2 separate regions of the Homo sapiens genome follow, and region 2 is linked to region 1. The links come from fine-mapping of genetic effects on gene expression. A gene starts in region 1. The other region holds a variant in brackets. All regions are shown on one strand. Distances are from middle to middle.

Region 1 (5,369 bases):
TCCTCCAGCTCTGCAGCAGCTCCCGGTTTCCAGCAGGGCTGGCCAGGAAGCCGTGGCCAAGAGGGAGCTGGGTAGACAGGGCCCAGAAGTCAGAGCAGTCAGGGGTGGAGCGTGCAAACTCTGCAAAGCTCTAGCCTGGCTCCACCCCTTGCCTGCCTGAAGCTCAAAAGGATGACATCACCCAGACTGAGGGCTCCAGCCTAGATGGGCTTCATTAGCAGGGAAAGCCGGCACCTGCAGGGCTCAAGGACTTCCCGGGTTTGCGGGAGGCGGTCCTCTGCTCCTCTTGTGAATCCGGTTCAGCTTTAGGGGTCTCTGCTCTGAGTCTTGGAGACAGCACGTGGCTATTCGGGCTTCCAAGTCTGGGGCTATGTTTCTTCTACCAGAGACCAATCTCTCGGGCACCAGCATAAGCACTCTTTCCTTCCACCCTGCCAAACGCTGCTTTTCCTTGCCAGCACCGGCTGCAGCTCCATGTTTCTGAGGCTCCGTGGAGAGGATTAGATCACTGATTCTAACCAGGCAGAGTCAGCCCACAGCAAACCTAATGTCCCCCTCCCTGTGGGCTCATGTACCCTCCCCAGCCCCCAAACCCTACTGGGTGCTTGTGTTGCCTGCTTGCAAAGCATATGCTTGGCTGCTTGCTTGGTGTCTGCTGTTTATCTGTCTCTTCCTACTGAACTTCTGTTTCTTCTTGGCCCATCTGGCTCCTGTGGTGCCCGTCTTTTGCTCGGATTGCGCCTGCAATCGACACTGTCCTCCCCACCCGCTTCCCCTCTACCCTCTTCCCTCCCAGGGCTTGCCTCTTGTGCACTTTGGGCCACTGGCAGGCACCCCTGACCTTGGGTGTGGGACCAGCGAGGACTGCCCCAGGCACAGTGGGGAGCCTGATGTCGGGGTGTCCCTGTAGTGTTCTGACGATGTCCTTTGTGGAGGGGCTTGAGGGGGTGTGGAGGGCAGTGTGGGAGTTGCCTTTGGACTGGGGCGAAGGCTAGGTCCTGGTGGAAACCTCCCTCTCCCTGGCCCTTCTGAGCTTCTTGGGGTGGGGGCACCACTCACACCAGACTATTGTAGAGTGATGGGAAAATGGCCTGTGGGTAGCAGCTGGAGAGAATGAGGTCAAGGAAGCCCCAAGGCTCCTCTGACCCAAAAACCAGGGTCCACTCAGATCCTTTCCGCTCAGAGGTTATGGCAGTCTGGTGGCTTGGGTGGCGGCAAGGAGCTGCAGATGCTCACATCCAGGCAGCCAGGGGTGGAGAGGGCTCTGGGCGTGGCAGCTGTGCCAGCAGTGCTGCCGGGGATCTGTCCCCACCCCGCCTCGTCCCAGCCTCTTGGCGCTAGTTCCCGTGCAGCCCAGACGTTTCTCCCCCTCTCGCCCCTCCCACAGCGTGCACACCCCTGCACATGCTCCCACCCGAGGAAGAGCTAAGCACACTGCAGCGGTTCACACTCACCCCTCCAACGCAGCCCGCTTCCTTCCGGGCGTGATGTGGCAGCTCATGGCTTCCCTGGGATTCACGAGGCCCTGGGAGGCAGACGGAGCAGGTGGGCGGAGCCTGGAGGAGGATGGAGGAGAAGAACCGGAGCCCCCACGGGGCAGGGCTGCCATTCGTCTGCCTCTCTGGACCAGGGTTGCTCCTCCAGGCTAAGGCCGGCTGCCGAGGAGGCTGTGCTGGGCCTGGAGTCAACAAGGATGCACGTGCTGGGGGCCATCAGCTGCTGCTCCCATACAAGCATCTGCTCCCACCAAACCCACAGGGCTTGGCTGCCAGGCCTTGCTGTGTGCCCACTCTGTGGCTCTGTTCTTTGTCTCTGTTGTTCCATCTGCCTGCTCCACCGGCTGCCTGGCTCAGCTCCTCTCGGCCTCTTTATTTCTCTCGGAATCTTCTTCCTGTTCCTCATTTCTCCCCATCCTTCTCCCCGTCTCTGTGCAACCACATTCATGCCCTGGTCTCCGAGACCTTCTTTCCTCCTCTGCCCTTATCAGTCATGCCTCTGTGTGCTTCTCTGCGTCTCCCCCATGTTCATTCTCCTGCTCTCTCTCTTGCTGCCTCTCATGCATATTCAGCAGCTCCTTGAAAACCCACCTAGCTTATTCTGCGTGTTAAATGCCTAGATCTGCTTCAGGCATGAGACTTCTTAGCCTCTAGCTCTAGGACGCCACCTCAGATCACAGTCTGTACTAATTGTGTAGAGGATGTTGGTGAGCCCACCTACCTTCCACCCAAGCATGGCTCACTCTACAAGTTCTCCTCTTCTGACCTGAAACAAGGCAGCCCCAAGGTGTGTCAGGCCCACAGCAAAAGCCATGGTGCACAGGAGGACGAGGACAAGGACGAGCACAAGGACGTCTCCTCTTAAAGAAACCCGAGGGCTTCAGTCCTGGAAATAAACGTAGGATCCAAAGTGTCTTCATCCTTTGGTGCTTTTACAGTCCGTTTTCATCCGCTCTATTATCCCCTTACAACTCCGTGGGAGGGGTATCAATGAAGCAGCTGTGGAGTTCAGACTAGAGGGCACTCCACCAGTGCGGCCCAGCATTTGAGGAACAGAGCTGGCATCAGAAACTTGGCTTCTGAATTTTTAGCCCTTGTCTGTGGCAGGTGAATGGACAGAAAGAGTCTGGAAAAACGCAGAAAGTGGCAACTGAGGGACAAGAGGACTCAGAAGCAGAGCAGAACCTGGGCTCAGCCCCCAGGGGAGGGTACAGAGATGAGGGAGACGGGGGAAGGCAGGAGAGGGCATGAGTGGCAGGCATCCGGCACCTTCTACCCCCTGTTTCCACCAGCCTTTAGGAAGAGAGGACTGGGGTGCTTGCCCTCACAGGTGACCCACATGTCACGTCACTCCCCGAGCCCCTGTGGCTTCTCCGTCTCCTTTCTCTGCCCTGTTATCTGGCCTCATGGTTTCTTCTCTGCTCCCATCTTCTCTCTCCTTCCCACCTGCAGATCACCTGCCTGCCTTTCCCCTTCATCCTGGGGGCCCAGCCCTTTCCTCTGCCCCAGTCCCCTCCCGTCTTTCTCATCCACCGACCTCTCTATGCTCCCCACCGTCCTCCTCCTAAGCCCCACCTGGCATTTGTCTTCTCACTGCCAAATGAGCCAGCGTGGGCTCGAGGTAGCCAGGAGCAGGGTGGTCGCAGTTCTCCACAGCTCCTGACCCTGGCCTGAGCCCCCAGGGAGCTCCCACGCACCTCTTCCTTATGAACACTGGGGGCGCTGGAGGCTCAGCCCCCGCCCCACGCATACCTGGGGCAGGCTTGCTTTCCAGCCCTTGCAGACTCACGAGGGGCCTCATTCTGGGACACGTTGGCAGCTGTGGGGTCGACACACCTCTTCTGCAGGGAGGGCTCCCGACACTTCCGTCCTCTACCTGCACAGCCGGCCTCCATTAAACACACGCCTCAGCCGGCCTGGAGACTCCATTTCTATCTCCCTGGCGTGGCTTTTCCTCCACCACCAGCTGCTTCCTAGTTTTTACTTGAGGCTCCTGGGACATTGTCCTAATTTTTTCTTCATTTTTCTTTGTATTTGTCTAGGAAAAAAAAAATCAACCCTAAGAAACCCTTGAAACCACACTATGTGTTTTAAACCCTTGACCCCACCACAGAGGACTCTAACGTTGGCCTGGGCCACTTTGCCTGGTCCCCAGGTCGGGAGTGAGCAGCAGGTGCCCTTGGCTCTCTTTTATCTCTTTTATTCCCCTTCTTCTGTGGAACCCCCTCTTGTTGTGTCTGGAGCTCTGGGCTCTGTGCAGTATAAGGAGTCCAGGAGAGAGCTTGAGATGTGAGCTTCCCAGAACACCAGGTGCAGGGGATGTGACACGTTAGGGGAGGAGAGAACTCAGTGGGGAGAAGCAGTTTCTCCCTCTAATTTCATATAGAAGCCGAAAGAGCTCGGTTAAGTCCAGCTTAGTTCAGCTGGGTCCAGCTGTGAGGCTTTGGGCCCCTCACTAAATCTCCCTGAGCTTCAGGTTCTTATCTGTAAAGAAGGAGCAATAATAACCCTGTCCCGCAGGATGGTTGAGAAGATTAAATGAGAAACTACAGGTGCAAGCCCTTCGTAAATTATAAAGAGCTCTAGAGAAGTTATTATTTATGGAGCAGATGTGGAGTATTTAGGCGTCAAGACTAAAGGAAGAGAGGATATGGCAAGCAGCATTTACTCGCTAAGAGGTTTAGGAGGGAATTCTGAGAAAGAACTCAGGAGCGTGAAGACTGCTCGAAGCCCAGGGGCCTCAGGAGAGGGGAAGGCACAGCTCCACTGCCCCACGCCCTCCATATGCTACGAGTGCCATCGTTTGCTTGTACAGACACTGCTGGCATGTTACAACCCTTGCATTGAGACTCTTGTGTTGGGGTATGGAAATGCAGGAGCCAGGTTGGCACATCCAGGTGCAAAGCTGAGGTCCCCACAGGAGAGAGCATGGGTGGTGAGTTTGTGAAGTGGAGTGCTGATGTCTGGAGCAGCTTGACTTCCTCCCTGGATGAGGAGACAGAAGACAGGCTTAACACTCAAAGACAGACACCAAAAACATGATGTCACTATAAAATTAACAACTGAAGTAGGTAAAAGAAACTTTAAAACATTAAAAGGCATTAAAAAAATCCTTTATCTTCCCCCCCTGCATGAGGGCAGTGGGCTGTCTTTAAAGCTCCCATCTGTGCTGGATCCTTGTGGAATTGTTAAGTTCCTCTTGGACAAGGACCTTGTCATTTTGGATTACATTTCTGCGCAGTGCCTTGCAGACATATCCACTTAATAGATATTACTTGACCGAGTGATTGGAAAAGAGCAGAACAAAGAGAGAGAGAAATGAGAGGTGAGCTGTTTTTATGTAAGCCATTGTGTAGGAGACTTGAGCATTCCAGCTTCGGTGCTGATTGAGGCACAATTTAAATCTGACTTCTTGCCTGAAAAGAAAAGAAGTCATAACACCAACAAACCAACTGCCTTGTACTCTTTCTATTTTGGCAGGGTCTGGATAGGATAGAAACATTGGGCTGTTGGGGTTGGAAGGCATGTCAGTAGGGGCAGGGAGGTATGGAATACATATAAGGAAGTTCCAGAGCTCAGAGAAGCAATTTAGAGAATCTGAGTGGACTAGTTGGCCCAATTACTACAGAAGAGGAAACTGAGGCCCAAAAAGGCAAACTGTCTTATTCCAACCCACCTTGCTTTTTGGTGGCAGAAATGGGAACAGAACATAAGTCTTCTGACTCCTAATCCTGAGCCCTTCCAATGACTGCAAACTACCTCCCAAGAATTGGTCTCAAAGAGGGACATAGCACCCAAACCAGGCTGAGCCTGAGGTCTACTTCTGGCCTGGAGAGGAAAAGTCAGACGGAGACAGAGAGCCCATCCCACAGA
Region 2 (5,369 bases), 140 kb after region 1:
CCCATTTCCATGGAACCCTTTCCTCTGCGGTCGGGGCCTAGGAGCCATCTGTCTACAAACCTAGTGTTGAAGAAGAACTGCATGATGCCCTGGTTCATCAGCCTAGAGAGGTGGGCAGCACCCTGCAATTCCCGTCCTAGATTCATCACTGCTTTTGCGAAGCTGCTTTTGCCTGTGCTTCTCAGCCTTGGTGAAGTCATCTGCATTCACAGTGGCTTGCCTTCGCCCCCCACCCCTGGAAAAAGTCCTTGTGCTGCCTGTGCCGTTAAGAAAGAGGTGACCGGCTGGGCGTGGTGGCTCATGCCTGTAATCCCAGCACTTCCGGAGGCCGAGGCGGGCGGATCACGAGGTCAGGAGATCGAGACCATCCTGGCTAACACAGTGAAACCTCGTCTCTACTAAAAAAAAAAAATACAAAAAATTAGCCGGGCGTGGTGGCGGGCGCCTGTAGTCCCAGCTACTCGGGAGGCTGAGGCAGGAGAATGGCGTGAACCCGGGAGGCGGAGCTTGCAGTGAGCAGAGAGGCGCCACCGCACTCCAGCCTGGGCGACAGAGCCAGACTCCGTCTCAAAAAAAAAAAAAAAAAAAAAGTGGGACCTTGGGGAAATCCCTTGGCCTTTCTGAGGCAGCTGCCCGCAGGGAGGGAGGCAGCCTTTCTTGGCAGGAGACACACGTCTGTGCAGACGCACAGGGCTCCCGTCTAAGTCTTCGGGGACTGCCTTGGCAGCACAGGCTGAGTGCAGGTGTCTGCAGCTCAGTGGCATCCTCCGAGGAGAAATGCCACCTTCTCCTTCTTGCGGGCAGTCCCCCTCTCTATGCCAGATCATTATGAAGCATTATCTCGCTTGGCTTTGAGGGAGAAGCACGCCCTTTCCACCCACATAAGGAGGGTGAGGGAAACGCCTCTTAGCACTTCCAGGCACTCCTCAGAAGGCCAGTGACTGGACTTCAACCTTCTGTTTCGTCTCCTTCCTGCTGCCATCCTGGTGTGCTGCTACGGCCAGCTGTGCCGCCTCTTGTTCAGCTGTGCTGGAGGTAACCAGCGCTCCGTGACAGGGCGGGATGCTCAGCTCCTGTGTGTCCTCAGTTTGGGGCCTTAATCATCAAAGGGCAACAGGAAGTGTCCCTTCACACCTGAGGCCCCTTCATCCTCTCGTGGGTGTGGGCCTTCACAGCGGCAGCTCCTTGACCTCAGTACAGCCTTCCACTGCGCTTCGTTTCACCGGCTCCTTGTGCGTCCGCCTCACTAGTGTGGAAGCCCCTTGGCAGTGGAGCCCCCATCAGTCCTGTTGGTGGCCAACCCAAAAGGCACACGTCTCAGAGGAGCAGTGTGAGGAGGGAGAAATGGCCTGGAACCAGCAGAGAGGCCTGGCTTTCCCACAGCCTACATTCTAATGTAGGGATCCAGCCAGTCACCCAGTCAATCAACAACCCAGTCCTGTGAAAGTGTCATGGGCATTATGCAGAGAACCAAGTAGGATGGTGTGGAGTGACAGGCGGGTTGTAGAACTGAGTAGGATGGTGTGGAGTGACGGGCGGTTTGCTTTCGGTTGGGTGGCTAGGGAAGATGGCTTCGAAGTCACATTTAAGCCTCCTCACATTGTTGAGAAGGGGCCAGTCAGGTACAGCTCAGCAGAGAAGAGCCTCCCAAGCAGAGGTGCTGTTTCTGCAGACCTGAAGGTAGGAGTGGATTTGGTCTGTTTGAGGAATAGAGTGAGCCATGAGTGGGAAGGGAAGGAGAGAGCAGCGGAAGAGGATGAATGACACACTAGGGCTCTGTAAAGGGAAGGAGGGTTAGATTGTATTCTCGGGGTGCTGGGAAGTCACCGGAGAGTTTTAAGCTGGGCAAAGCCTTGATCTGATTTATGTATTAGAAATACCCCTCTGACTGCTGGTGGAGAGCGGACTATAGGAGGGTGAGAGCAGAGGGAACAGAGAGATGACAATGCCATCCACAGTCCCAGCTGAGAAGCGTTTAGACCAGGACAGCCACAGCAGAGGCGGAGAGGAGACGACCAGTTTGGATCTGTGTGGGAGGGGCGACAGACTTGCTGAAAAGCTTGCCGTGAGAGTGAAGAAAAGAGAGGAATCAAGAATGACTCTGGCTTTTGACCTGAGCAACTGAGAAAGAGGACTGGGGGAGGAGGAGGTATGAAAGGGGACAGACATCAAGAGTTGTAAGGTCTGAAACGGTCCTTAAACTTCCCATTGGAGATGTCAGGTCAGATGCCACTAGATGTGTGGGCCTGGGATTCCAGAGGGACCCTATCAGTGTAGATACAGGTTAGGGAATTGTCCTCAGAGAGATGGTATTTAAATCCTAGAAGGGGAGGGTAGACAGAGAAGAGAAGGGGTGCACACAAGCAGCTGAGTGTCGTGTAGAGGTAGGTAATTAATGATGTTGACAAGGCGGCCTCAGTGGCACGGTGGGGACAGAAGCCCCGTGGGAGTGGGTTGATGAGAAAGTGGAGACAGTGACTATTGA[C/G]AAATCTTGGGCTAGGAGGCAGAGGGGAAGTTCTGATGGCACAGCTGATTGCTGAGTGGAAGTTTCCCAGGACATCATAGCTCTAGGGCTCAGGAGCACTGTGGGTGCCAAAGTGTCCTATCCAGTTCCCCTCTAGTAGATGGGTGTGCCCATCCCCTGGCTTCTTTGCATGTTGGTGGCCCATGGTTCACAGGTGCCTCCCACCCTGCTCATCACTGGAGAGGTGCCCTTCACTGACGTGAGCCCCCTTGCCCAAGAAATGACAAGCTCCTCTGCCAGGAGTGACCCTCAGCTAATGGCTGGCACAGGGATACAAAAGGCCACCTGCTTGCCTTAAAGAGAGGGTGTCTCTATGATGCTTTCCAGGATCAGGCCACAGCTAGAATTCACCTGAGATGACATCCTTCATCACTTCTTTCCCCAATCCTGTCTAGCTTTCCTTACTTCTTTAGTTTTTTTCTTGGAAGTTTCCACAATAAAACACCCCCCACCCCATTGCCTGGCTTAGGCTTTGCACCTAGAGAACCCAGTCTAAGACTGGATGCCAGGGGACTCTAAGGTTGGAACTCAGGAATTAGGTCACTCACCACTGGCTGGCAAAAGGACCCCATCATAGCGGCAGGTACAGTATTAGCAGTTGCTGGTATGTGTTAGCAGTGCAGTTGCTAAGATGGCCACCCATGTAGAACTCAGGGAAGGTACAAGGAAAAGGGATATACTGGTTCATAGAACATCTTATATTTGAGAGGTTCTGAAGAAAGACCACTGATAGGAACTGTGGGATGGAGTGGCCGAATGCCCTTGAGGCTTTGAAGAGAGGAAAGGCAGGACCAGGGCAGCCAATCTCCAATTTAAAGCAAAGGAGAGTCAGCATGCCTCCTTGGTGGCCTTAAAGAGACTCCCATATGCAGCAGGAGGGCAGAACAAGCTGAAGACCAGACCCAGGACTTAACTGTTAGAGAAGAAGAATTCTGGAGCAGGCTGAATCTCAGACCAGATGAGTCTCATATGCCAAAGTCAGGGTCTAATAGGAAAAGACTGAGACCCACCATCTGGGATGGGAAAAGAGAGAGAAATGTGTTGGAAGGCTTTGAGTCTCCAGATTCCCCAAAACTTCTGGTCCTGCCAAAATGGCCTTTCCCCGTTTCTGGAAGACAGAAACCCCTCCTTGCTTGAAGAACAGGCAGATGCTTCAAATGAAGCAGGTATTCTACAAGAAGTTCTTGACTTCCTCAGCAGCTTTCCCATCCACAGATGCCCCATTTGTCCCTTCTTATCACTTAGACCAATAAGAGAATCAAAGCTCAGCATATCCCCCTAGGCAAGCATTGGTTCTGCTAAGAGAGGAGAGGGATTTCTTCAAGGAGCTGAAGGATCTGGCTAGTGTGTGTTGGGCACAGACCAGGGAGTGTGCTTGGGGGTGAATCCTGAGGGTCCTGGGCCAAGGGGGCCAGACTAGAAAGCTCTTCAGGGGAGAGTTTGTTGTTATGGGGGCACCCACCAGTGATACAGGTTTTAATAATCTTGCCAGGGCCCCATAAGGCAATTCTTATGGCTGCTGAGTGGTTCCTAGAGGCTTGTTGAGAATGACGGCCCACATGAAATGAAATAGATGTGTCAGAACTCCCTTGCAGATCATGGCTGAAGGGATCCAAAGGCTTAGGGAAATGGGCGTGCTAGAATGGATCTACTCTAGAATACCAGAAGACCCACTGGCTGCCTGTGCTTTTTGATTGGGCTGGAGGACTCTCCATTCACCAGGGAGATAAAGGATGGGTTGGTGAGAGGGTTCCAGCATGGATGAGCAGCTCAGCACAGCTGTCCTCGGGAGGCCAGGGCTGAGCTTGAAGGTGCTGATGCAGAACTGAGTGTCTACTGAAGCCTACAGAAGCTGTTATGATTTGTGGGGAATCATGAGCAACAGTCCTTCTGAAGCCTAGAATAAGAAAAGAAATGGCATCAGTGCCACCATGAAATATTGGGCTGAAAATCCAACTGATGTGGTTAAAAAGTAAATCAAGAAAAGGTTAAAAGAAAGTAAAATAAAACATTGATTATTTTCAAGTGATATGAATATCTATATATAAAATCTGTGAGAATCTATGGACAAACCATTGGAAACAGTAAGAGAACCAAGCAAGATTGCTGAACCCAAGGTGGATGGAGTTCTTTATACCAGCAACAAAACAACGTGTTTTAAAAGGCATCTTTATAATAGTGACGACAACAACGAAACAAGAGAAAACAATGGGCAAGACCTTTATGAGTTAAATGGCAAGACTTCATTGAGAGACAAGAGAAGGTCTAAAATCACGTGGACATCAGATTAAGACAAATGAGCATCCCCGTCTCCATGTGTTGGTCCTTTCCCCGAGGATGTGGTCCCTTGAAGGGCCTGGCTTTCTGTCAGGACTGACAGTTTGCCTTGCAAGGGCCTGTGTGTTTGATACCTCTCCCCAGGGGCCAGTCCCTGTGCTTTTCTTAGAGGTTGGACCCTTCCCCTCTCGCCTACCTCTCTCTCTGTCAGATCAACTGGAGCATCGGCCTATACTTAGCACTCTGGTTTCCAATTCTCTCTTCACTTTTGGCTAAAGAAGTTATCAACTCAGCTATGCATTCAGAGGCATGCTTGCTACATCCTATACAGCATTCTAGATTTTAGGGGCAGAGGATTTTTAGGCTATCTGGTTGGCCTTGTTACCAACACTGAACACCTCCATCCTTTCTTTGTCTCTGTTCAAAGTATGCTGTTTGACTTTTCTAGATCGCATATTTGTAAAAATATTTTTCAATCCGATGGTGTCTGTTTTTCAGAGGATCATTCAGTTCATTCACACTGAGTAATGACTGTTATACTTTATACAGCATTCTACCTTATTTTGTA

The links. PIP is the estimated chance that this variant, and not a neighbour inherited with it, causes the effect. A credible set is the group of variants that fine-mapping cannot tell apart.
Region 2: its variant is the best candidate, but not a certain one, in a credible set for the expression of LINC02731 in tibial nerve (GTEx, PIP 0.67).

Annotation. Positions count from the first base shown.
Region 1 is chr11:134,028,946-134,034,314 of GRCh38, reverse strand. LINC02731 (long intergenic non-protein coding RNA 2731) reads right to left here and starts at 2,043. Exons shown (of 3, transcript NR_027276.1): 1 at 1,455-2,043. RefSeq lists enhancers at 524-1,251, 1,252-1,979, 2,680-3,179.
Region 2 is chr11:133,888,937-133,894,305 of GRCh38, reverse strand. No RefSeq gene overlaps it. Among named protein-coding and RNA genes, the nearest start is that of MIR4697, 7.0 kb to the left of the region's middle. The variant C/G (reference allele first, on the strand shown) is at 2,486.